Homo sapiens: one gene and its partners. The protein of the gene in region 4 purifies or fractionates together with the protein of the main gene of each other region. This does not show direct contact. Each region holds a gene or a part of one and is shown on either strand. Other genes may lie near its edges.

Region 1 (7,811 bases), on a different chromosome or scaffold from region 4:
GCGAGAAGCCTCTGGTTTCTCTTAAAGGAACACTTCACAACAGAGAAAGCCACCTGGTTAGAGGTTACACAGATACCAACCATATAGACTTAACAAGCATTTTGAATGCAAGATCATTTCATTGATGTGTAGGCACATATTAAAACTGGGAAGATCCCAAAAGCCACCTCTCCTGCAAAACACATTCATCTAGGAGAAAACGCCAAAGCATCTGTCCTCAACTACAGGTAACAACCTTGGTTTCTTTGCCTTTGGCTGAAATCAGTGTTGCAAAAGCCTTTTAAAAGAGTAAGAAAATATAGGTTTTTCTCCCAAGATCACATTGCCCAAGTGAAACAGAACCAGTGCTTACTTTTATTTTTTGTCTCCTGTTCAGAGGGGTCAAACATTGCTCATAATCTTCATTAAATTTAGTCCTGTGGCTGGCAAATGTTAATTTACTGGAATATTTTCCTTCACATTCATAAAGAGGGAAAACTAGCTTTGTGATCTGGTTGCAATCTACACAACACATAGATAATCCACAACAGTGGTAGGCGCAGAAAAGCTCCAGCTGGTTTATCTCAAATGTTCAGAATGATTTTGATTTCTTTACCGACACCACAGCCATTCATAAAGATTCATTGCCAAATGTTGCCCAATACCGTGATAGAGGCGATGGTGAAGCGAATGTCTTAGACTGGGAAATCATCATGGTGCCCAAACCTCAGAGTCTGCGGCCAAATGGTGGGGATTTGGAAATCACCTGTCACGGAGATGGTGAAGGAAACTGGATTCAAACTAATGAAGACTAAAGTCTTTCCAGCCAGAAGACGGTTTGAGTCCAAGGGGCCATTTATATACAAGAGCTAAGAAAGGTGCAACTGATTTTCCCCCAGAAGCAGCACGATTATTTTTAAGTTCAAAGACATTTTTGTTAATAAACTGCTTCACACAACCACATCGAAGCCAAAATGTGCCAATGAAATAATCAAAACAAATAGCTCAATTGGGACTTTTTGAATGTTCAACAAAAAGAAAAATTAAAGCTGGTTAGACTGCTGGATAGTAACGTTACAGTGTCTCCTTTAAGAGATCAAAATGTCTTTGCCACCCTCCACCCCACCCTACCCCACCTCTAATAGTGAAGTGGATAATTTCTGAAGAATACAATGACCCTTTATGCCTGGCTTCTCTAGTCTGCTAGGGATGCCATCTGTCTCCCACGCTATATAAACAATCCCCGCAGGAATCTTCTGATGACCAAACAGATTAGCAAACTCCAGATTTTCACGCCATTAATAATATCCCCATCCAGATTAGGCCTTTTATTTTAATAACTCCAAAGATAAAGTCAATAACTGATCTTTCTTTCTTTGTAGATAATGTGTGTGTCATTTTAAAGATAACCTCTTGGAACATACAGCCATCTGTTGGGAAGAGAAAGAAAAAAAGCTCTCTCAAAGCAACAGAAGAAATGAACCCTCGAGGGAATAGGAGAAATAGTAAAAAGAAAATCATATTTATAAGACAAACACATGGAGAGCTCTACTAATTACACTAAAATATTCTTCTTCTAAATGACAAACTATAGAACACTACTCCAGAAAAGACAAGTTTCACACTTTCACAAAGGTATATATATACGAAAACAGTTTGCGTGAGTCTAGGACAGTGAAAGCAGAAATCATAACCCAAAAGCTAAAGGCCCCCGAAGTTTGCATGCTGTCCACCTCTATCTGTAATGATCACAAATGTTTTCCTTCCTGAAGTTTAATATCGATTGAACCCTTGTAACTCTAATTGTGAGCTCTCTGTACTGACTCCAAAGACTTCTAACTCTAAAAGAAATGTGCCTGTAAAGATGTTCTCTAAATTAATAATAATAAACGACGAAAAGCACCCGAGCGCTGCTAATAGTGAAGACAAGGCATGAGAGAGTCAGACCTCTGCAGTCTCGCGTCCTCGGAAACGTCTACGTCTAAATCTGCAGCCCCAGTTTGCTCCAGGCCCCAAGCTCCAGCAGAGGATGTTCACGGCACATTCCCAACCAAAAAGGAAATGAAGCGTCCTCTCCCTCAACTGATGCTCAAATAGACCCCAAAGTCCCAGTTTCCCTGGAGAACCAAACCATCCAACACATCCTGGGCAGCGGAAACCGAAATGGCAAATGAATGACCGCGCCGGGGCGCAAGGGAGGAAAAACAAAGCCACCTCCCGCCGTCCGCTACCTGCGGCGAGGGCCGCGCGCTCACCTGGGCTTTGCGCCCGTCGCCACAAGCTGCGGGTGGGGACCCGGCCGCGGGGCGGGAGGGCGCCCCCAAAGTCGCCCGGACCCGCGGCCCCGGCGCCCTGCGGCCGGTCCGTGCGCGCCGAGGAGAAAGCAGGCGGCCGGGGGCGCCGCCGCGCGTTGCATGCAGCTCACGGCTGCTGCGGCCGCTGCCACGGAGCCGAGAGTCTCTGCGCTGCAGTCCCCGACCCCGAGACCGCGAGAAGCGCCCGGAGAGACGCGGCGCAGGGGCAGAGCGCGCTCGGCGCGCCCCTCAGCGGCTCTTCCCGCCGCCCTCCGCAGCGGGCTGGGTCTCGGCTCGCCTTTGTGCTGGCATCTTCCTAGCTCCCAGCGACACCCAGAGCTCTCGAGGCGGCTCCGCGCCGCCACCCACCCCCGGGTTACGCCACGGCCCCCGCGCGACCCGCCGATTGTGTCGAGTCAGCAGCGGCAGCGGGGACGCGCGAAGCCATGGCTCCCGCCCGCGCTCGGGAGGGCGCCGGGGGTCCTGCGCCTCCGGGAGGTTTGTGGCCGAGCGCGGCGCGGCCCCGAGCGGCCCCGCAGCGCCCGGCTCCCCGCCGCTCGCTCTCCAGGCGCCGACCCGCCTGCGTCGCCACCCTCTCGCCGCTCCCTGCCGCCACCTTCCTCCCGCCCGGGTGCCGGGCGTCCGCTCCAGCCGCGGTGCCCCGGTCCGCGGAGAGCGAAGAGTCCGGCCTCCTCACCTCCAGCCGCGCCGGCGCCCTTCCCGCTAGACGCTTCGGCGGCATCTGCCCGCACCGCCCTGCGGGACGCTGGGCTGGGAGCTGGCGGCACGTCGGGGACCGGTGGAAGGGAGGCGGGGGCAGAGGACAGGAGGGACAGCCAGACCTTGGCCAGCGGGACCTCCCTGAGGAAGGTGCGGAAGAACGGGGCGGGTGCGGCTGGGCGGAGGACGAGTCCCGAGGCTGCGGCGGAGCCTGAGTTGCTCTCCTTCTGCGAAGTCGAAGGACAGGAGGATTCCTAGAGGTGTCGCGGAGGGTGGAGGAGACCCTCTGAGGTCGTGCAGACAACACTGTTCCTCAACCCCACCAGAAAGCTGAATAGGGGAGTGTCATGCCTCGGTTTCCCCAACTGCAAGGGCAAGACGGTAATACTCATGTCGCACACACAGGGTGTGGTCACGATGAAAAAATGGATTATTGAAAGCGTTCCCAGATACTTTGCCTAAAGAGGGCACTAAAATTTAAAATTACTGTATTAATACTTTCGGCTTTCTGTTTACTTCTATAGCATCTTCATCAACCAGTCCCACGTAGGAGAAAAAGTAAAAATGCTAAAGTGTAAATATATTGTGTCCCTCCCCACCCACCCTTGCATCTGTCCAGATTTAGGGAAGATTTATTCAATTTTACAATTTAACTATATCCATATGGAGTAAGTCCCCAAATAATGGATAGCCATTCCTTTGGGACTTTTGAGTGTGTGCTCAATATTATCCATTTCTCCGCCTTTTCTGGTAACAGCAGTTCATTATTCCTATGGGAACTGCCCTTCCCCCTCACCCACAATGAGTCTTTGTGGCTCCAGGGTACTGACACCTCCCACCCTCAACCCCCAGAACTAGCCAGTCATCTTCCGGACCGCAGTGATCGGTTCTGGGTTGGGCATGTTGATCCAGGAACTCGGCCTAGGGCTTTGGATGTATTACTGCAGAAAAATAAGCTCTTTAAACTAGGATAACTAAATTGGAAGGATATAAGCCTACGGTAACAAGGACCAACAGTGCATGCCAATGAAGCCAACTTTGAGGGAAGAAAAGCTGCTGGTGAGAGGGTGATGTCCCACCCTCTCAGGAACCTCAGGAGGTAGATGTGTCTGCAGTGAACTCTACCCTTGAAGCCAATAAATCCTCTCTCTTTTATTTCAAGTCAGTGTCAGCTGTGTTTTGTCACATGTCTCAGAGGAGCCCTGACTTCTTAGTCCCCTGGATCTATCAGCCCAGGCATCACTGTTAGGATCCTCCACAGAATCAAAGAGCCCCACCCCACAAAAGGCCCAATTCCAGTTCTTGCTGGAAGAACAGGGATCCTAGAGGTTTGTTCCCACATGATGTTCTCCTTCACAACTTACTCAAATCCAGCAACCCCACACCTGCAATCCTTAGCTTCTTTGTGTTGATTAACCACTATGTTACATTCTAGTCAAAATGGGCCAGGTGCAGTGGCTCACACCTGTAATCATGCCTGAGGCAGGAGGATCTCTTGAAGCCAGGAGTTTAAGACCAATCTGGGCAACATAGTGAGACCCCACTAACACAGGAACAGAAAACCAAACACTGCGTTTTCTCACTCATAAGTGGGAGCTGAACAATGAGAACACATGAACACAGGGAGGAGAACATCACATCAGGGAGGAGGGGCCTATCGGGGGTTGTGGGGCTAGGGGAGGGATCTCATTAGGAGAAATACCTAATGTAGATGATGGGTTGATGGGTGCAGCAAACCACCATGGCACGTGTATACCTATGTAACAAACCTCCACGTTCTGCACATATATCCCAGAACTTAAAGTATAATACATTAAATAAAGAAAGAAATAAAAATAAAAATAGCCAGGCATGGTGGCCTGAACCTGTAATCGCAGTTACTCTGGAGGCTGAGGCAGGAAGATCAGTTGAGCCCAGGATTTCAAGACTGCAATGAGCTGTGATTGCACCACTGCACTCCAGCTTGAAGACAGAGCAAGACCCTGTCACCTTGTCAAAAAAGAAGAGGAAGAGGAAGAAGAAGGAGGAGGAGGAGGAAAAAGAAAGAAAGAAAAGAAAAACAGAAAAAGAAAGAAAAGAAAAGAGGAGGAAGGGAGGAAGGGAGGAAAGGAGGGAGAAAGAAGAACCCTAAAAATGAATAGAGGCAAAGTGAATCACTATTGCTGCCCTAGGTCTTAAAAAACATTTTTCTCTCACTTTAAAAGCAGCCCCTACTACCTTTAAAACTTTCTACATATCGACCATTAAAACCGAGACTAAGGCATCAAAGAACATTAATAGCAAAGTCATCCTAAAAATCTCAAACTTGCAAAGGTGTGTAAAGATTAGGTAGGTTCTTTCACACTGCACTCCCCGTTCGTCATCACCACCACTCTCCTTCACAAGATCTCTGACCGGGTCTCACTTATCCTCTCCTGGAGCCATTCCCTTAAAGAGAACTCAGTACTTTACAAGCTGGTCAATTCTGCATTGAAACTGGCCTGACATTAGGAAGTGATCCCTTATATTGAGTTGAAATATTTCTTCCACCTGAGAGTACTCCAAGCACTGAAGACAAACTTGTGAACCACTTGAATTGTCTCTTTTCCAAGATCTTTGCATGACCCATAAGTCATGCAGGACACATGGCAATGTGTCCTGACCCTTCATCATCCTAGGTTACTTCCTTTCTACAGATGTGCCAAGGTTTGTGACTGCTCCTTCTAAAGCATATGGCCAAAGCTAAACCCAAAGGCAGATTCCAAGAAACTTATACTCCAGCCCTCTTCCAACAACACAGAAGGAGCCTGAGAGACATGTTCATGTGGTCTTATATTTTTATAAAAGCTTCCAAAGTAAGATATTTTAATCTCAAGCGATTTGCAGTGGACTGAATGTTTGTGCTCCCCCAAATTCATGTGTTGAAATCCTAACCCCTAATGTGATGGTATTAGGAGGTGGGGCCTTTGGGAGGTGATGGAATAAATGCCCTTATAAAAGAAACCCAAGAGAGCTCTCTCACCCTCTTTCTGCCTCTTGAGGATACAAAGAAAAGATGGCAGTCTGCAACTGGAAGAGGGCCTTCCCACCCACATCACAACCACACTGGCACCCTGATCTCATTCTTCTGGCGTCCAGAACTGTGAAAAATAAATTTCTGTTGTTCATAAGCCACCCAGTCTAGGATGCTTTGTTATTGCAGCTTGAATTAAGACAAGACTGCTGTCCCTTTTCATTCTAACTTCCGTGTTGTCCTAATTCCCCTTGTTCCGAAAGAAGTGGAGTGATTGTGGACATTTGTGGGGATCTGGCTAAAGGGAAGTTGAATTGGTTAAGTGGAATACATTTATGTGGTCTGTGGGCATTAAAGTTGTGACAGTGATGTCTATTTTGACTGTGCAAAGACAGTCACTTGGGCCCTTCAGTGTTGTGACACAAAGGTAAAGGGATGGAAATTATACCACCAAGTATTAATAACTGCATACTTCAGCACCCAGCACAGAAGTATATGGGTAACGGGGTAAATGATGTTTGAAATGTATGTACGGATTCAGAACTAGAATATGGAAAACCCTCCCACATCTTATTGTTTATATGTGAAATAAATTTAATAGTGATTTTCCTAAATTTTGAAACAATCCTAAAAATATGTTACTTTCCCAATAATGCATTGTGGACTGAAAAGAAACTCCTCTAAACTATCAGTAATAAAAACAAATTTTAGTCAACTTTACTAGTGAAAACACTGGAATATCTATTAACTCTATAGAACATAATGTCACAAAATCATTTTCATATGAAGAATAAATCAAAGAGTATAAAGCCAAAATACGTAGGAAAGACATATCACAGAGGTATGTCAGGCAGTTAATTAATTTAAAGATCGTGGTATTTTTCTGTATTTGGTGATCTAATACTTGTAAGGTTGTTTTGTTGTTGTTGTTGTTGTTGCTGTTTGGTTTTTTTTTTTTGAGATGGAGTGTCACTGTCGCCTAGGCTGGGGTGCAGTGGCGCGGTCTTGGCTCACTGCAACCTCCGCCTCCCAGGTTCAAGCAGTTCTCCTGCCTTAGCCTCCAGAGTAGGTGGGATTACAGGAACCCACCATCACATCTGGCTAATTTCTGTATTTTTAGTAGAGACGGGGTTCAACCATGTTGGCCAGGCTGGTCTCAAACTCCTGACCTCAAGTGATTCACCGGCCTCGGCTTCCCAAAGTGCTGGGATTACAGGCGTGAGTCACCATGCCCAGCCTTATAAGATTTTTTGAATGTGCGAATTGTTGTGATTTTTTTAATTCTGGATATATATTCTTTTCAGTACCTCATTTTGTATGTATAATGTGTATTTTTTTTTTCTTAAAAAGTGTCTTGAATTGGGAGTTCAAGACCAGTCTGGCCAACATGGTGAAAACTGTCTCTACTAAAAATACGAAAAATCAGCTGGGTGTGGTGGCAGGCACCTGTAATCCCAGGTACTCAGGAGGCTGAGGCAGGAGAATTGCTTGAACCTGGGAGGCAGAGGTTGCCGTGAGCCGAGATCATGCCATTGCACTCCAGCCTGGGCAACAAGAGCGAAACTCTGTCTCGAAAAAAGAAAAAAGAAAAGAAGGGAAGGGAAGGAAGGAAAGGGAAGGAAAGGGAGGGGAGGGGGAGGGAAAGGTGGGGGCGAGAGGGGAAAGAGAGGGGAAGGGGGGAAGGGAAGGGGAAGGGAGGAGGGGAAGGGGAGGGGAAGGGGAAGGGGGGAAGGGAAGGGGAGGGTAAGAGGGGAAGGGGGGAAGGGAAGGGGAAGGGAGGAGGGGAAGGGGAGGGGAAGGGGAAGGGGGGAAGGGAAGGGGAGGGT
Region 2 (4,843 bases), about 45 Mb from region 4:
TCCTTTTAGTAGGCTTAAGCCATGTGTTTTGGGCAGACTTTTTTTTTTTTTTTGAAACGGAATCTCGCTCTGTCACCCAGGCTGGAGTGCATGCAATGGCACAATCTCAGCTCACTGAAACCTCTGCCTCCCGGGTTCAAGCGATTCTCCTGCCTCAGCCTCCTGAGTAGCTGGCATTACAGGCATGCGCCACCACGTCTGGCTAATATATATATATATTTTTTGTATTTTTAGTAGAGATGGGGTTTCACCATGTTGGTCAGGCTGGTCTTGAATGCCTAACCTCAGTGATCTGCCCACCTCAGCCTCCCAAAGTGCTGGGATTACAGGCGTGAGCCACTGTGCCCTGCCAGACTTTAATGTTTTTAAAAGTGCGGCGCTTTTAGGGAGATGAAGGAAATGAACATACTATAAATCTGCAGGCATTTAAACCCCTCTGACAACAATTAAGATGGTGCATTCACAAAGAAGCTTTAAATCAAACAACCCATAACACTTGATGTAGAAAATGTTCCAGCTTCCATAATTCTTTATTAAATATTTGACAAGTTGCATCGCTTCTTTACAATGACTTCATTTTGTCACATTAGTCTTTTGCTGTCAGGAAAACAATCTACAGTTTCTCTTTAGATCTCTCAAGAAAAAAGAAAAGCGAAAGGATTGTTCTTCAAGAAAACTTCCTGTGTGTATCAAATTCAACCATATTTTAAAGCTATTCTGACTGTGAAAATGAGCATTATTCATAAGTTGCCTTAAAAAAATTCAAGGTAGTTTGGTTTTTACCACTGTATCAAATAGTACTTGGCTTCCTATTAGGAGGTGGGTTTATAATAAAAAGTTATGAAACATTGATAATTTATTTGGAATGCTTGAAACTCTTTTCACCTTAAAAGTCACTGTTTTTTTCATGTTTCATTTGATGATAGATCCTGAATTAGGAAATGACAGCAAATTAACATCATCTTCCTAGGGTTTTCTTAGGCTCCAAGGGTTGAAATTCACAGGACACAGCTTGGAGAAAACTGCAGAAGGGACTAAACTCTCACCTCCTTTCGAAACCAGATTACTCAATAAAGGTGTAAAAATGCTATACAAATATATACAAATATATTTGGACAGCATATGTACGTATATATGTATATATATTACATACAGAGTAGTAAAGGAAGAACAAAGTCACGCAAAGTTAACATGAAGGAAACCGTGACAATCTAGGTGAAATCAGTCTGAGTAAAAGGGGAAAACTGGCTTACACGGGAACACATATCTGCAGACACAGAGTTATGGTCACGAGGAAGGCTTCTGATGATGCACTGGTACGGGGTTGAGAATGCAGTGCACGCGAGGTTAGGCGCCAACAGCAATGCTACTCCTTACACACAGAAAACCAACGAACGGAAAGACGTGCCTTTGAAACATGCGTTGCTTTCAGTGGAACATCTTTAACAAACAACAGATGTTTAATGAGGTTTGCTTGGAAAATTTCATGCCAACAGGAAGCTAACCCTTTTCTAGAAAACGTTCTCCAAGCTCCCGTCCTAATGCTGTGGCACTTTCTCTGACATACTGAGAACACTCTGGGGTGGGGGTGTGTGTATGCAAATGTATAGACACTGTTCATTAAGGCTTATATAAATTAAAAAAGTGGTCCAAAGAATATCACATTTTTCCCCAGTTTTAAAATCTAAAGTACAAAGTGGAGTTTATAAGGATTTGTTTTTTAAAAACACATCTCAGTCCTGAAATTGGCAGTTCTGACACGACTTATCAGGATGTACCCCAATGCCTGAATGACAGAGGTAGTGATCTTCGGGGTCAGGGGAGGTCAGGAAGGGAGCAGGCGGGCAGTTACCCTGCACAGCGGCACCCTCTACTGGCGAGGCAGCAAATGATACCAGACAGCACCTCCCACCTCTCCCTCTTAAGTACAGGGGTGCAGGGCCAGGGTAAGGAGGAGACAGAAGAAGGAGAACTAGCACAGTGTCACGTAGGGGCTGCAGAACTGATTAACCCAGGCTCTCTTTATACGTTTTTAAATTTCAGAGGTGAGTACAAGACTCTCAGAAATACAGGAGTCGACTGTTAATGGGTAACTGTTAGAATAATTAAAAAGTTGCTGTGTATGAACCTGGCTTTCGGGAGGACCAGTGTGGATCTGGCAAGATAGCAGCGGTGCACACTCTCTATGCAACAATGGGAGATGTAGAAAATGGTTCAAATGTTTTGCATGCTGTTTCTCAGAATCTGTCACTGTGAGGCCGGGTGCGGTGGCTCATGCTTGTAATCCCAGCACTTTGGAAGGCTGAGGCGGGAGGATCACCTGAGGTCAGGAGTTCAAGACCAGCCTGGCCAGCATGGTGAAACCATCTCTACTAAAAATACAAAAATTAGCCAGGCGTGGTGGTGGGTGCCTGTAATCCCAACTATTCGGGGAGGCTGAGGCAGAAGAATCGCTTGAAGCCAGGAGGCAGAGGTTGTGGTGAGCTGAGATTGAGCCACTGCACTCCAGCCTGAGCTACAGAGCAAGACTCTGTCTCAGAAATAACAATAATAATCTGTCCCTTTGTCCTTACATGGGAGAAATAATACATGCCAAGTCGCTCTGTATCCCTCATTGTCTGAATTTAGGGAATATCTGATGTCACCTTCTGAAGGGTCCTGGAAACAAAAACCAAGTGTCTTACCTTTGTTCTTGAGATTTGTTAGAGGACTGGCTGCAGAGAAGCATAAACATTTCAGGCAAAAAGGAAAAGAGCACTGAAGCTGGGAATACACCGCAACACAGACAATGAATGCCTCACTGCTGCCGGCTCCAGGGCCAGCAGTGGAGAGGCACAGGCTGTTGGACCTTCATCCCACCAGGTGCTCTTTCCACATCCTTCCTCGGGCCAACAAGGGGCAGGAATGGAAATACCCGGGACCCACAGGCAGCTGTGATAACTGATGTTAAGAGAACCGCAACAGGCAGTGTGTGAGCTCCGGCACGTACTTCTCAGCCTCATGTAAGTGGCCCATAATAACTACAGCTTCAGCAGACAACTAAAGAGACTGCATTAAGGTGATTTCTCTGGCTATAAAGAGAGCCCGGCCTGCAGAGCAGTGTGACTGCTGGGACCTCTGGGATAGGCAACACTGCCCTCTCTCCCCCAGGGCTACTCCCCGGGCAGGTCGGGGCCCAAGGAATGACCCAGCAACTGCTCCTTACCCAGCACACTCTCTTTACTGCCACCTGCAATTATGCTGTGAAGATGACTGGGTGTGGTCATCACGATTCAGAGAAATCAAGATCTATGACCATTTTAGGCAAAGAGAGAAACTTGGAGAATTGCTGAGGACTACTGAACCTTGTTTTGCTTTTTTAAAAAATACTAAATCCTCACTTCAGCATATTTAGTTGTCATTAAAATTAAGCTGATATTATTAAGGGGTTGATGAACTGAGGTGTCACTCACAATTACTGCCTTCCAAGTATTCATGGGGTAGATTTCAGTAATTCTTGTTTGCTTCTGGCTTAGAAATTGTCAGAATGATTTTTCTTTTATACTTTCCAATACTTGACTTAATATGCATTTAGTGACATTCTGTTTTTTTCAATATACGGTTTACAAGATGACAGAAGAATCCCAGTTCTTAGGTTAGAATTGGATTTCTCCCTCTACAATTACACAATTACTCTCAAAAACCAAGAAAGCATACTGCTCGACTCAGGCTCTGGCATGATTCTTAAAAAGAAAACTGCCTCTAGACTATGGGGGCTTACAAAAAGGGGATTTTTGCCACTGAGACATTTGTCATGTTAACTGTAGCGGAAAACATCTCACCAATAGTCAAAACTCATGAGCGGGAATTTTTTTTTTTTTTTTTTTTTTTTTTTTTTTTTTTTTAGTTACATAGCATCTAAGTTTTCTGATCACTACCAGGTAATTTTCAACCAATAAGAAAAAGGAACCAACACTCAGCTCTGTAGAAATCTACCTTCTTTTAGAAACCTCAGGCCTCTGCACCCCTTTAGACAACTCATTTACAACCACAACCTTCCATGGCTTCTCACATGCCAGCCAGGGCAGGGTAAAAACGGCAATTTCTTACACCGAAAGGTCCTTTTTATGTAACAAACAGACCTCCCCAAACCACAACTTTTTTGTCCTATTGATGACTCGCATGAGATCAAATCTCTAGTGTCCCCTGACTGCCCCGACAGGGTCTAGGACAACACAGGTTAAAAAGGACAGCAGGGTCGTTCAACTCCCACACTGCCTCAGGTGTTTTCTCAAAGCACGACAATTCTGCAATGGAGACTTACACGTGGAAAAGAATCAAACTGTGCAGGTACCCTCAGTCCTCTGCCACTACCAGCTCAATAGCTTGAGCTCAGAGGATCAAGTCAAGTCTCTGTCTCACTTTTAATCTAGCACACAAGAGGCACAACTCAGGCAGTACACGGTATTGAAGCATGCAACAGGTCATTGGTAACAAAACTCAGTTAGATTAAGAGTACATTAAATAAATCTTTGTAGTTGAGTAGAAATCACAAAACAGTTGGTGAGGACAGGTCTGTAGGCTCAGCTTTACATCCAGGTTTTTATACACCAGCAGCCAGATTCACAATTGATAGATATTGCACCGGAAAGATGTGTGCAGGGAAAAGAAATCATCATCACATTTAATGTTCATGATAAAAAAATAAAAACAAAACCAGATATGACCTCCATGTAGTACATAAAGTGCCTTCAGAATTGGTGCATTTACAACAAAAACTGGTTATTTAGCTACCATTAGCAAACGCATACAAACAGGAGACTAAACAGATCTGGTTTCCACAGTTTTGAATCAAGCAGTGCCA
Region 3 (7,029 bases), on a different chromosome or scaffold from region 4:
GAAGTGGGGCTAAAAACAGGAGGACTGGCAAAAGCCTATCTTGGGAATGATTAGAGTCCCAGAGTCCCCTCCCCACCCAGTTCAACCAAGCAGTTGCCCCTTCCTAATCCCAAGCAGACTTTTAGTCCAGCACTTTGGGAGGCCGAGGCAGGCGGATCACCCAAGTTCGGGAGTTCGAGACCAGCCTGACCAACATGATGAAACCCTGTCTTTACTAAAAATACAAAATTAGCCAGGTGTAGTGGTGCGTGCCTGTAATCCCAGCTACTTGGGATAGGCCGAGGCAGGAGAATAGCTTGAACCTGGGAGACAGGTCATGGTGAGCTAAGATCACACCATTACACTCCAGCCTGGGCAACAAGAGCAAGACTCTGTCTCAAAAAAAAAAAAAAAAAAAAAAAAAAGACTAAAAAGACTTTTAGTTTCTCAACAGGTGAAACCAAACTCAAGACTTCAGGCATAGTTGACAATAGGGATAAGGCACCATATTGACCCAGCGAGACAGTGAAAGTCTACATTATAAACTGAAAAGGTCAATTTCCCCCACCCAACTCACCTTCCCGCACTTGGGTCCTAGCATACATGTGTACTTCACACCTAAATGTCAACAAACATTGCAGAAGTCCTTGGCCAAAAAGCCAGATATAAAAACAAACAGAGAGAAAAAGAGAATTGTTTTTCAGCAATTGACAAGCTGATCCTAAAGTAAGGAAATGCAAGGAACCCAGAATCGCCAAAACAATCTTGAAAAAGAACAAAGTTGGATGACTAACACTTTCCAATTTTAAAACTTACTACAAAGCTACAGTCCTTCAGGCTCTGTGCCTCATGCCTATAATCCCAGCACTTTAGGAGGCCCAGGCGGGTGGATCACTTGAGGTCAGGATTTCGAGACCAGCCTGGCCAACATGGGGAAACCCCGTCTCTACTAAAAATACAAAAATTAGCCGGGCATGGTGGCAGGCACCTGTAATCCCAGCTACTCAGGAGCTGAGGCAAGAGAATAGCTTGAACCCGGGAGGCGGAGGTTGCAGTGAGCCAAGATAGCACACTGCACTCCAGCCTGGGAGACACAGCAAGATTTCATCTCAAAAAGAAAAATAATAATTATTACAGAACTTTTGACAGGAGAAAACAACTACACATCAGATTAAGCTAGTGGCAGCTCCTGCAATACCTGAAGCACCTGATCACTTTTATCACCCTACCTCAGCAACAACCTTTCAGACCTGTCAATCTTCTGGAGGCTAATAAGCTGAACCACTCATTTGCCTTTGAGTGATCCAGAGCAAGTTACTTACTGAGAGGATGGAGAGGAAAAAGCAAACTCAGTTTCTTCCTGCTATACTCTCACAACACAGAATACTACCTTTTTTTTTTTTTTTTAATAGAGACAGGATTTCACTATGCTGCCCGGGTTGATCTCAAACTCCTGGGCTCAAGCGATCCTCCTACCTCTGCCTCCCAAAGTGCTGGGATTACAGGTGTGAGCCACCACGCCCAGCCCCACAGAATACTTCTGACACCAGATGTGTGGGAGCCCCACATACCAAGTAAGCAATCAATTCTGCAGCTGGCAGACACCAGCTGGGTGTCCTCTAATTCAGTTCCTACACTATCCACCTGGAAATAGCATCAGATCCCACAGGTTTAGTTCCCCAAGACTGCCCCTGACTTGCGACATCAATTGCAAGCTCCAGGTTGTTTTACCCGTGCTTCTGACCAACCGGCTATAAATCGAGGTTCTTAGGATTGATAAATTTGCTAGAGCAACTCACAGGACTCAAGGAAACACTTTATTTGCATTTACTGATTTATTATAAAGGATATTATGAAGGATACAAATGAAGAGACGTAGGGCGAGGCATGTGAGAAGGGGCACAGAGCCTCCAAGCCCTCTCTGAGGGTGCCATCCTCCAAGAACCTCCACGTGTGCAGCCATCCAGAAGCTCCCCAAACCCAGTCCTTCAGGGTTTTTATGGAAGCTTCATTACGCAGGCATGATCAATTAAGTCACTGCCACTGCAGATCAAGTCAACTTTCAGTCCCTCTCCCTGTCCCAGAGGCTGGGTGTGGGACTAAAAGTGCCAACCCTCTAACTACAAGGCTGGTTTCCCTGGCCACTGGCCCCCAAATCCTGAGACTATCCAGGAGTCCCCAACCAAAGGTCAATTATTAGCACACAAAAAGACACTGACCAGGTGTGGTGGCTCACACCTGTAATCTCAGCACTTTGGGAGGCCAAGGCAGACAGATCACCTGAGCTCAGGAGTTCGAGACCAGCCTGGCCAACACGGCGAAATCCCATCTCTACTAAAAATACAAAAATTAGCTGGGTATGACGGCATGTGCCTGTAGCCCCAGCTACTTGGGAGGCTGAGGCACGGGAATCGCTTAGAGGCTGCAGCGAGCCGAGATTATGCCATTGCACTCTAGCCTGGGCGACACAGCGAGATTCTATCTCAAAAAAAAAAAAAAAAAAGACACTGATCACTTGGGAGATTTCAATGATTTTAGGAGTTATAGGCCAGGAAATGGGAGGAAGACTAAATATATATTTCACAAAATCATACCTACCCTCTCTAAATCTCAGTTTTCTCATCTGTGAAATGAACCCAATAATAGTACTTACTTTATAAGATTACTGTACTGACTACATGAATTCAGGTAAAGCAGAGGACACACAGTAAGAGCTCTTCAAATATCAACTACAAACAAAACCACTTCTCGATACTGAAATTCTTGGCTCTGGCATTACAAGCACCTCAATTCCTAAAATTCTTGACCCAGCTCTGAGTCAAGAAACCAGTGAACACCGATCTTGAGATGAAAAGACCTGTGTAGAAGGAGCCAGGGAAAAGCAGAAATTACACACCAGTATCAATATTTTATTTCTTGTTTTAAAAAATTTTTTTCAATATAATCCATGGGTTCACAAAGATTTTATTTCTAATTAACCAGCTGTAGAAACAGGCAGAGCTTATTTCTAACTAGAGATAAACCTTGCACCCACTTCTATTTTTTTTTTTTTTTTTTTTTTGAGATGGAGTCTTGCTCTGTCACCCAGGCTGGAGTGAGTGGTGCAATCTCGGCTCACTGCAAACCTCCACCTCCCGGGTTCAAGCAATTCTCTTGCCTCAGCCTTCCGAGTAGCGGGGATTACAGGTGCCTGTCACCACGCCTGACTAGTTTTTTGTATTTTTAGTAGAGATGGGTTTCATCACGTTAGCCAGGATGGTCTCGATCTCCTGACCTCATGATCCACCCGCCTTGGCCTCCCAAAGTGCTGGGATTACAGGCGTGAGCCACTGCGCCCAGCCTGCACTCATTTCTTGAAAGATATGCAAGGAAAAGCTCTGTCCAAAAGATTCTCCTGTTCTTCACAGGCTCATGCTACTCCAACACTAATGCTTCTTTCTTGGCCTCCTTCCTCTGTCCAGCATTGAGTTACTACCTTCCATTCTCCAAAGGCCCATATTGAAAAACAATCAAACAGAATCAACTTTGCCAAATGACATCCTTACAAAGACTAAGCACGGAAAAAGAGAAAACGGGAGGGAGCAGGGAGGTACACTATTGGAAGCCCCGTGGAATTACAGGCTAAGAATAAAAGAGGCTGACTGGAAAGCAGATCTGAAGACAAAACAAGAAGCAAAAGGCATGGGTGACTTGAGGAAGAGGACGGGCCCTAGGTCAGGACTGCCATGTCTTGGTACTTGTTATTTTTTATTTATTTAATTATTTTTGAGAAGGAGTTTCGCTCTTGTTGCCCAGGCTAGAGGGCAGTGATGCAATCTCGGCTCACTGCAACCTCCGCCTCCTGGGTTCAAGCGATTCTCCTGCCTCAGGCTCCCAAGTAGCTGGGATTACAGGTGTCTGCCACCACGCCTAGCTAATTTTTTGTATTTTTAGTAGAGACGGGGTTTCTCCATGTTGGCCAGGCTGGTCTTAAACTCCTGACTTCAGGTGATCTACCCACCTCGGCCTCCTAAAGTGCTGGGATTATAGGTGTGAGCCACCATGCCTGGCTGGTATTTTCCTAATAGTTATTATTAGTAGTAATGATTTAAATCACTGAATATTTGCTATAAACTGCGGTGGGGTGAAAAACAGGGAACTGCAACCTTCTAAAAAGATTTTGGTTAGAATCTAACCTGTCCCATCATCCAGGGGAAACATCTTCCCTTTTGTTCCCATCTTTCAGAAATTCCAGAGCCCTAGCCAGTTGTGGTGGCTCACACCTGTAACCCCAAACACTTTGGGAGGCTGAGGCAGGAGGATCACTTGAGCCCGGAGTTCAAGACCAGTCTGAGTAACATAGTGGGACCCCATCTCTACAAAAAAGTTAAAAATTAGCTAGGCATGGTGGCACATGCCTATAGTCTCAGCTACTTGGAAGGCTAAGATGGGAGGATCACTTGAGCTCAAAAGGTTGAGGCTGCAGTGAGCCATGATCATGCCACTGTACTTCAGCCTGGGTGACAGAATGAGACCTTGTCTCAAAAGCAAAACAAATAAAGAAGAAAGAAAAGAAATTTCAGAGTCCATAATGTGGAGTCCTAATAAGATAAGTAAGCAACAACGAGGAAGGGGCCTCAGGTAGGGGAAAGCCATGGACAGTCGTTCTGAGAAATGATTAATCACAAACAGCCCTCAGATGCATCAATCCCCACATAGCCCCCTCCAGCACAACCCTGTAAAACTTCCCTCCATCTCCTGCCTCTTTGCAGACAGCCCCTTCTCTGCTGTGCTGCCCATTGCTTTCTTGCAACGTGTTTTCACTTTAATAAATCTGCCTTTCTTTACCTGGTAAATTCCCTTTCTGCCTGTGACACATAATAGTCCTAAGGGACTCAAAGTCGCTCAAAAGCAACTCACTGATTTGATTCCAAAGGGAGTTTATGTTTATATAGCCACTCCACCCATCTCACTAATGATAAGTGGTAGAAGGACCAGATGTGGACTCTGAAGACCAAGATTCAAATGGCCATCTCTTTCATTTCTTAGCTATCTGACCTCGTGAGGGTCACTTCACCTCAACAAGGTTAAATGTATAAAATGGTGGGATGCCTGACAAACAACATGCATTCAATACATGTTTGAAAAAACCAATACATATTTCAAACATAAAAAGCCCATTATCCATCCATCCTGGAGGCCTAAACTGGATGCCAACCCAGGAAGCCAGACTAATTCCAGAAATTGGCACTCAAATTGATTTCAGGGGTGCTATAAAGATGCACAGTTGGAAGAGTAGCCTCATTAAGAAAAAAGAAACCCATTAGCTTGTGGTTTTCAAAAAGATTAAAAAAAAAAAAAACAAAACCCCTATTCCAGTACTTTGGGAGGCCGAGGCAGGCAGATCACTTGAGGTCAGGATTTTGAGGCTAGCCTGACCAACCTGGTGAAACCCCATCTCTACTAAAAATACAAAAATTAGTTGGACATAGTGGCAGATGCCTGTAATCCCAGCTACTCAGGAGGCTGAGGCAGGAGAGTCACTTGAACCTGGGAGGTGAAGGTTGCAGTGAGCCAAGATCGTACCATTGCACTCCAGCCTGGGCAACAGAACAACACTCCAAAAATAATAAAGTAAAATATAGGATCCCTAGAAAAGCCTCTCTCTGAAGGTGATGGTTGAGTAAAGATCTGAGGAAGTGAGGGAAGGAAGGGGCCATGTGGCTGAATAGGGGCTTAAGGGTCCAGGCAGAGTTCAAAAGCCCCAAATAAGGAGTACCACTGGCAGGTTTTGGGACCAGTCAGGAGGCCAGTGTGGCTGGAGGGGATTGAGTAAGCAGGAGTGGAGAGAGGAGGTCAGGGTGGTGGTGGGTGTGGGAGGAGAGATCAGGTCATGGAAGGCTTGCAGGCCATTGTAGGGTATTGGTTTTCACTCCAGTTAAGCTGGGACAATTGGAGGGTTTGAGTTGGGCAGTGGAGTGGACAGGATCCACCCTGCCTTTTAACAGACTTGCCCTGGGTCCTGTGTGGAGAAAGTGAAGGCCAGCCAGGGTGGAAGAGGGAGACAAGTTAGGAGGCTGTTGCCATCATCCAGGGGAAAGATGCATCCAGGGTGTACTCTGAAGTACAGCCAGTAGGCTTTGTGGACGAGCTGAGTTGGATGTGGGGTGTGAGAGGAAGAGACGAGTCAAGGGTGACTCCAAGGTCTTTGGCTTGAACAACTGGAGGAATGGAGTTGTCATTAACTGAGATGGGGAAGGCTGTCTGAGGGGCAGGTGTAGGGCTCAATTTTGTTGATGTTGATTATAAAATGCCTGATAGGAATCCACGTGAAGATATTGTGGGCAATTAGATCTAGAAGTCTCGAGACAGGCCTAGGCTAGACACACATATGGAAGCTGTTAGCATGTGGATAGTATTTAGAGTTAAGAGACTGAGCCAGGTGCAATGGTTCATGCCTGTAATCTCAGCACTTTCGGAGGCTGAGGCAGGAGGATGTCTTGAGGCCAAGTGTTCAAGACCAGCCTGGGCAAAAGTGAGAACCCCCGCCCCCAACTCCCCATCTCTCCAAAAGCAAGACGGAGTCTCACTTCATCACCTAGGCTGGAGTGCAGTGGCGCGATCTTGGTTCACTGCAACCTCCATCTCCCGAGCTCAAGCAATTCTCGTGCCTCAGCCTCCCGAGTAGCTGGAATTAGACACATGTGCCAACAAGCCCAGCTAATTTTTGTATTTTGGGTAGAGATGGGGTTTCACCATGTTGGTCAGGCTGGTCTTGAAATCCTGACCTCAAGTGATCCGCCCGTCTCAGCCTCCAAAAGTTCTGGAATTACAGGCGTGAGCCACCGCACCTGGCCAGGATCCTATTTAAACTGCAACCTACATCCCTCTTCCCTGCTTTATTACAACATAATACATATTATACTTAGTTATCAATGTGCCCTTCTCTAATAAAATTGAAGATCCACAAGGGTGGGGATCCTTACCTTTCTTGTACTGCTATATTCCTGGCATTCAGAACAGGTTTGTCCAATAGAAATAAGATGGGAGCCACAAGTGCAAGCCACATTT
Region 4 (6,993 bases):
AAAGTACCATTTTTAGTGAGAACTCAAAAGAAAAGCAATCCATTCTTAAATCACATGGATATGTGACAATACAGACATCATTTTCAATTCCTCCTGTGATGGAAAAAAATGACATTAACTGAAAATTCAAACCCAATATTTTCAGCATAATTAATAGTACAGGTACTAGCTTCAGTCCTTTCTCTGCCTAACAATGAAGCAAACAATGCCCCCCAAAAAATGTCCCTAAAAAGTGGCAGGTCTTGTGGCCTAAATTTTCAAATAGTAGACAGAACCTTTGCATTCCTATTTTGAAACTTAAGACTCATCTTCCATGTACACCCGTAATATAGGTCAAGATGTAATTCTAAACTAACACAGTTCATATAGGCAGAAAGTCTCTTTGACATCAGAAAATAATGGCTTCCAGGAGATTTTTTTCTGAGACCTAAAAAAAGGAAGGAACAGAGGGAGAGAGGGAAGGAGACAGAGAGGAAGGAAGAAAGAAAAGAATAATTTTGGACTACATAGCAATTTTGCCGCTATTCATATTTAATATCCATGTGCCGCTATACATTCTGTTAACTATTTCCAAAAATTTTTCCAGGTTAATATGGTGCGCTCTTCTTTTACAATGTTTTATCACTTCTTGAGGGATAACATTTTTCCTTCTCTACTAACTCTTACACAGGAAGAAGGACACATCATAGAGACTGGATAAGCCCAGATTCCAAAGAAAGATGAGAAGAAACATGGCAAGGACTACCAGAAAGATCAGAGCAGTCTACAATTTCAAGAATTCCTGCCCAGGGCCCTGAGGTGGCTTTGGTTTTACGTGATGACGTAGAGCAGTCACCTCCCACCCACCACAAGGAGACTTTATGCTGGCTACATGCAGAGACGTCAGGAGCTCAGGGATCTCTGCTGGACTGCCTGCCAGAAACCATGCACAAGGAGCAAAAGTCACTCTCCTCTGACTGTGCTTCCCTATCAGTCAGGGAGGTTACCCCTGCAGCAGCCCAGAGCAAAAACAGAGAGCGTCCCAGGAGCTATGAGGCTGGTCTGCCAGGCTGCTAAGTCAACCAAGACTACAGCACAGTCCCAAACTGTAAACACCTCTGCAGACGGGCCCTTGCTCTCCGCGTGCCAGGCAAGAAAACTATTCTTAGAACACTGTCAGCAGTTGGGGGAAAATAAATATTTGTCTATGTATGTATATACTCCAGTGGGAGTAGGGTGGGGTGCAGGAGTCTCAAATAATGTGCCAACAAATTGGCACAAAATCCCTTAATAAGCAGCTGGCACTGGCTGCGTTCCACTGCAGGATTGTGGTCTTGCAAACCAAGCCCATGAGAGGATTCAAGAGACAGCCCTAAAAACCTGCCGGGAAGAGTCTTCTCCAATGTAAATACAAACCTACACGAACCAGGACCATGGCCAACAATGGCAAGCCCTTCCAAGGGTAACAGCAGAATGTTAAGAAATTAGAGAGGTCATTTAAAACAAGGGAGGAAGGTAGCTACAATTCCATTACAGCAAATCCCTTACTGGCATTTACATTCCCAGCCCTAATTCCTAACACTGTGTTCAATGTCAATAGCAAAATGAAGCTCTTAAAAAGAATTAAGCTTTCAAAGATCATAAGGAAGTTAGCCCCCTGTTTTAAAAAGCACTGCTTAGAAAGGTCCATCAAATAACATTTCAAGGGTTGATGGGAAACCAAATATAATTCAATAAATATACATGGGTAATACTCAGACATCCTCATTTGTCTATGTAATGACTCAGATTTGACACTCTGATCCTTGACTGAACACAAAGACTATATTCCAGAAGAATTGTGCAGAGTACAAAGGGAGAGTTACAGATGACAACACACTCGAGTTAAAGACTAGAAAAGACAATACCATATACAGAATGCAGACATGACTTGATGCAATGGCAGTCTCCCTGTGCAGACTTTGCAGAACCTTCTCTGTCATTCAATACTCAGTCCTGAAGCTCCAGGGAAGATACAGAGAGGAGGATGCCATTCTTGGCTAGCCAAACCGGCAGAAAGGGCCGTTTTTAAAAGGAAGCTTCCCAGCACTAGCCCTTCGAGAAGGCACCAACCTCCTTACCAGCCATAGGACCCTATTTTTGAGAGTCAATGCTGCTCACCATCTCTATCCACCTCTACTGCAAATAACTTACTAATACTAGCGCTCAGAACCCACATTCTGTGCAGCTACTCTTACCTCACATCCTACAATGCCTAACACATAGTAGGCCCTCAATAAATATGTATTGCAATGGTAATTAACATTTAGAAAGCAGCGCTGGTCCGGGGATGAGAAGATGCCAAAATAATTAGAAAAGAGAAAAAGAGAAGGGAATAGACCAAGACACAGAGGAAAAGAAAAGAAGCAAATCAAAATTATCTAATTCTAGCTAATTAAAAAATTTTGGGGGAAAAACAAAAATCATGCTAGTTCATGCGGCTATGGGCACACAGCAACCATTCCTGTGCCTGGGCAGAGCTAAGGAGTCCTGCTTGCTTTAAAGAGCTTCTAGCTGCCCTGACTGGCGACGAGGTGTCCCTCCAGGTAGGTGACCCAAGAACGCTGTACTCTCGGATGCGCCTTCCCCCAGTGCCGCCCACCCACCATGCGTCCCTGTCGTCCTGAAAACCTCTGCCTCATCGGGAAACCTTCTCCTTTTCCAATTAAAAAAAAAAAAAAAAAAGTTTAAACAAGCAAATGCCCTCTCCGCCACGATAGCGATTTAACCTAAACCGAACCCACTGTCTTCCACCGGTGTACTCACAGGGCGCGCCCCCAGGCCCACCCGGGGCGGCGCACCGGGAAGGGGTCCCGAGGAAGCTTCCTAAAGGCTGTGCAGGGCAGACCCCTTCACAAAGGCAAGTGCCGGGCCGGGCTGGGTGCTTGTCGCTTCCTGTTTATTCCAAGGTGAGGGGCAGAGAGAAATTCAACACACGCCTGCTTCCTCCGGGGCTCGGAGACCCAGCCTAAGTGCAACAGCAGCAGCCCCAGACAATCGACTTCCCAGCCAATGCCGGGAGCTCCGGGCGGTCCCGCGACCGACGTCAACGCGCGCGGGGGGACCCGGGGGGACGCCGGGTGAAGCGGGCCCGAGGGGCCGGGGCCGGGGAGCGCGCGGTGCAGGATGCGGGACTGAGGGGCTGCGGGGCTTGGCCCGCCCCCTCCTTCCCGCAAACTCCCCGGTCAGGTCCTGCAGGATCTTCCCGCTTCCCGCTGACCTCCAGTCCCTGCCCGCCACGGCTCGCCGAGGCCTAGGGGCGCGGAGACAGTTGGGGCTGCCATCCGCGCGCCCATCCTGGCCTCCGGGCGGTGCAGAATTCAGTCTTGCAACCGCGGGACACCCTGCGCCCCAGGGCACCAGGAAACAGAAAACGGGGTGGGGGTCGGCGAAGTCCCTCCACCGGCGTAACCCCGCCCGCGGGCCAGCCCCGGATCCCCGCCGTGCCCACCGGCAAGCCCACCCGGACCAAGCCTCACAGACCTCGCGCGCTCGGCGCCCAGCTTCTCCCTCCGGCCCCAGCCGACGGCGCAGGCTCGCGGACGTCCAGTTCCCAAAGCGTCCGGTTCCCGAGTCCCCCGCCACCCCTCCCTCCGGAGCGCAGCGGTGAACTTGGGCCAGAAGCCCCGACCACTGCGGCCACCTCGGGTCCGCACTCACCTGGGCCGCCCCCCCGGAGCGGAGGCGGGGACTGCCCGCAGTGCGGCTCCGCGGCCACCGGCCCTGCTGGCCAGGGGGAGGGGCGCTGTGCGGGGCGCGGCAGGGGGCGCGCGGCGGGCCGGCGGGGAGCGCGGCGCGCCGGGGTTCTTTAAGAGCTGAGGACCTCACCCCCGGGCCTCCCCCGCGCTCCCCGCCCTGCTTCCACTTTCCCAGGCACCCGCAGCCTGTCTGGCTGCAGCGGCGGCAGCGGCTCAGTGGCTTGCAGGGGATCCCCGGCCGGCCGCGGCGGCGCGCGGAGCGGGCAGGGCCAACGCACTCGCCTGCTAATCCCGCCGGGCCCGGTCCGCAGCCTCAGCGCGGGGAGAGAGGGGACGCGGCGCTGCGGCCGCCGGGGAGGTGTCCCGCCTCCAGTCGCCGGAGGGGGGAGTGTCCCGCCTCCCGCCGCCGTCGCCGCCGTCTGTCTCCAGCCGTGACTGCGCGCCGCGGCTGTGTCTGTCTCCAACTCCTCCAGTCTCTCCTCCTCCTTCCCACTCCGCGGTGGGGACCCGGCGCGCGGCCAGGCCGCGGGTACCGGGGCCGCCGTGGCGGGGGCTCAGGGGTCCCCGGCTCACAGGCTGCGCCGACCCCTGCGGGGGGCGGGCCCGGAGGCCGGGGGTGGGCAGTGGGGGAGGCGCGCGGGCGCCGAGGCCGCGGGACCCGGGGCCGCACTCCCGCCCAGGGCTCGGGCCCGCGTGGCGCGCGCCCACCGCCGGCCGCACGGGGAACTCCAAGCCGAGCGCAGAGTACGCTGCAGGGGCGCCCGGAGGAGCCGGCTCGCTGCCCGCAGGCCGGGGGCGGTTTCGGGAGGCTGGGGGCGCGTTCCAGCACAGAGTACCTCGCGGGCTGCGTGTGCACCACGGGCCGCGGGACCTCGGGCAGCCGCCTAGAGACGTGCAGTCGGGCGGCAGGACACTTAGTAGGACGGAGCAGTGCTCGGCGAGCCTTGAGGAGCTTGAGGCGCCCCCGGACCCCACCTGGTCGCCCCCTTAGTATCCTGCCCTCTTTAAAGGAAATGGCTCCTGCCTAGAAGGTCAGATGGATTCTTCGCGCTGTGACCCTTTCTCCTTGAAGGACCTACACCTCCTGTGAAGACCATTTCGGACTTGACCTCCACCTGAGTGCAGACTTTGTTCAGAAGTACACGCATTGCCTCCAGCCACCCCTACCATGTTTGATGGGGGATTGGTTACTGCCAGAGCATATGAGCATTTTAACCCAATTTTATTGCAGTCACCAAAATTAGTTCGCCTCTGCCAAAATTAACCCCCCTGCAGACATATCAAAATACTACACTAAGCAGGGGTTTCAGGCTGGGTTTAAGATAGATGCAGCTGATTAAAGGAGTGAACATTTTCAACTGTCCCCACACACCCCCCAAAAAGTTGTCCAGTTCATATTTCCGTAATGTCAGAGAAATGAATCTTTTGAAACCTACGTTTTGTCTAATTTGTCAGTGACTTTTTAGTTAGTGAAATGTTGGCTGAATTCAGTTTCCCTTAAGCCCTCAGCTCTCAGCTATGGTGGTAATTGCCGCTAGCCTTTGATCAGTGCTCATATGTGATGTAATAATAACTACCATTCATGGAGCGCTTCTGTGCTAAGCGCTTTACATGGATTGTCTGATTGAGTCCTCACAATAACTGGGAGCTATTACTTCTCCATTTTACACATGACGAAGTTGAGGCTAGAAGGATTTAGTAATTTGTCCTCAGACCACAAAGAGATGGTTTTACATCCCTAACTAGCTGCATAGAAAGCTGGGAGCTGAACCAGCATGCCATACTGCCACCTACCTACAGCAGCGCTGACAGTTCTTCAGCTCAGCCCGCAAACCAGCCAGCATCTGCCCTGTGCCCGGCAATGAGCCCGCTCCAGCTGGGAATGCCCAGGTCCTGGTCTAACTGAGAAGCTTGTAGCAGGGGAACTTTGAACCTGGCTGCCTGGGTAAACTTTTTTAAATGAGCAATAAGCTGATAAGTGCTTCACACAGGTTATCCTAATCTGACAAGCATATACTTAGTTTATATTTAATGTCCACAAATGCAAAACTCACATGCTTTGGGGTTGGAGAAACTGTGCTCTTGCCCTCTTTAGGTAGAAAAAGAAATGACTTTTTCCATCTAAACGCCCCATGGACAATGAAGAAGAAAAGTTTTTCCAAAACCACAAAGCAATGCCTTCTATTTCACTTGCACATAATTTCTCTGTGTCTAACTTAACCGCCTTAAATTGAGGGCTGAATTTTAAAATCATAATCTCAATTTCTACCATTTGTGATGAATCTCAATCTCGTGTTGCCCTTTCTTATCTTATTTATAACTAGAAACTGCTGCGGCTCTGTATTTCTATCTCTAGAAAATATGGGAGGAACCTGTCCCTGTGTTTTCTTTTTTTTGTTTTGTTTTGTTTTGTTTTTTGAGGCGGAGTCTCGCTCTGTCGCCCAAGCTGGAGTGCAATGGCGTGATCTCGGCTCACTGCAAACCCCGCCTCCCAGGTTCATGCCATTCTCCTGCCTCAGCCTCCCGAGTAGCTGGGACTACAGGTGCCCGCCACCACGCCCAACTAATTTTTTGTATTTTTAATAGAGACGGGGTTTCACCGTGTCAGCCAGGATGGTCTCGATCTCCTGACCTCGTGATCCGCCCGCCTTGGCCTCCCAAAGTGCTGGGATTACAGGCGTGAGCCACCGTGCCCGGCCTGTCCCTGTGTTTCCTACTCAGTCCTCCCTGTATTTGTTTTCCACTTCAGCTATTCCCTCCCACACCCTTCCAGACACACACACTCTCCCTATAGCAATGCTAAGAGTTCGAGGTACTTAGATGTAAGTTTGCTCTCTGTAAAATGCAACATGATTCTACATCGGCTTCATCCTGACCATTCGCTCATTCCAAGGGCCCAGACTGAAGCGCAGCAGAGCGGAGACTTTGTTTTGCTCCGTTGGTGGAGAACTTGGACCCCAGTACACAGAATAGTGCCTGACACAAGGGGCTCAAAGGGTTTTTTGGAATGAATGGTACCTTAGTATTGGGATAGATGAGTAAACAATATTGAGATAAATATTACTAAAATTGGGTGGAAATCAACTGAAATTGGTTTCAAAGAGTGAGAGGTGAAAAAGATTATTTTTCACTGTCAATCCTTGCAGCCTGTCTCATGTCAATTATACCCTGGCCATACTTAGTCCATAGAAGTTTGCTAGTCAGTCATCTAAGGAGACATAAATAGAAAAGGGAAACATGAACGAATGTTGAGAAAAAGGGAATTTGAGGGCCAAGT

What was found.
Region 1: the proteins of LDLRAD4 (region 4) and HECW2 purify together in Homo sapiens (affinity purification with mass spectrometry; 4 studies listed by BioGRID and IntAct, with this or other methods). This does not show direct contact.
Region 2: the proteins of LDLRAD4 (region 4) and NEDD4L purify together in Homo sapiens (affinity purification with mass spectrometry; 4 studies listed by BioGRID and IntAct, with this or other methods). This does not show direct contact.
Region 3: the proteins of LDLRAD4 (region 4) and WWP2 purify together in Homo sapiens (affinity purification with mass spectrometry; 5 studies listed by BioGRID and IntAct, with this or other methods). This does not show direct contact.

Annotation. Positions count from the first base shown.
Region 1 is NC_000002.12:196,590,538-196,598,348, forward strand, and holds the start of HECW2 (E3 ubiquitin-protein ligase HECW2), read right to left. Parts: upstream 3,018-7,811; 5' UTR 2,971-3,017; intron 2,447-2,970; exon of another isoform or gene 1,927-2,446; intron 1-1,926. UniProt on the Homo sapiens protein: E3 ubiquitin-protein ligase that mediates ubiquitination of TP73. Acts to stabilize TP73 and enhance activation of transcription by TP73. Involved in the regulation of mitotic metaphase/anaphase transition.
Region 2 is NC_000018.10:58,397,199-58,402,041, reverse strand, and holds the end of NEDD4L (E3 ubiquitin-protein ligase NEDD4-like), read right to left. Parts: 3' UTR 503-4,843; downstream 1-502. UniProt on the Homo sapiens protein: E3 ubiquitin-protein ligase that mediates the polyubiquitination of lysine and cysteine residues on target proteins and is thereby implicated in the regulation of various signaling pathways including autophagy, innate immunity or DNA repair.
Region 3 is NC_000016.10:69,765,328-69,772,356, reverse strand, and holds part of WWP2 (NEDD4-like E3 ubiquitin-protein ligase WWP2), read right to left. Parts: intron 1-7,029. UniProt on the Homo sapiens protein: E3 ubiquitin-protein ligase which accepts ubiquitin from an E2 ubiquitin-conjugating enzyme in the form of a thioester and then directly transfers the ubiquitin to targeted substrates.
Region 4 is NC_000018.10:13,214,780-13,221,772, reverse strand, and holds the start of LDLRAD4 (low-density lipoprotein receptor class A domain-containing protein 4 isoform alpha 1), read right to left. Parts: upstream 3,014-6,993; 5' UTR 2,785-3,013; intron 1-2,784. UniProt on the Homo sapiens protein: Functions as a negative regulator of TGF-beta signaling and thereby probably plays a role in cell proliferation, differentiation, apoptosis, motility, extracellular matrix production and immunosuppression.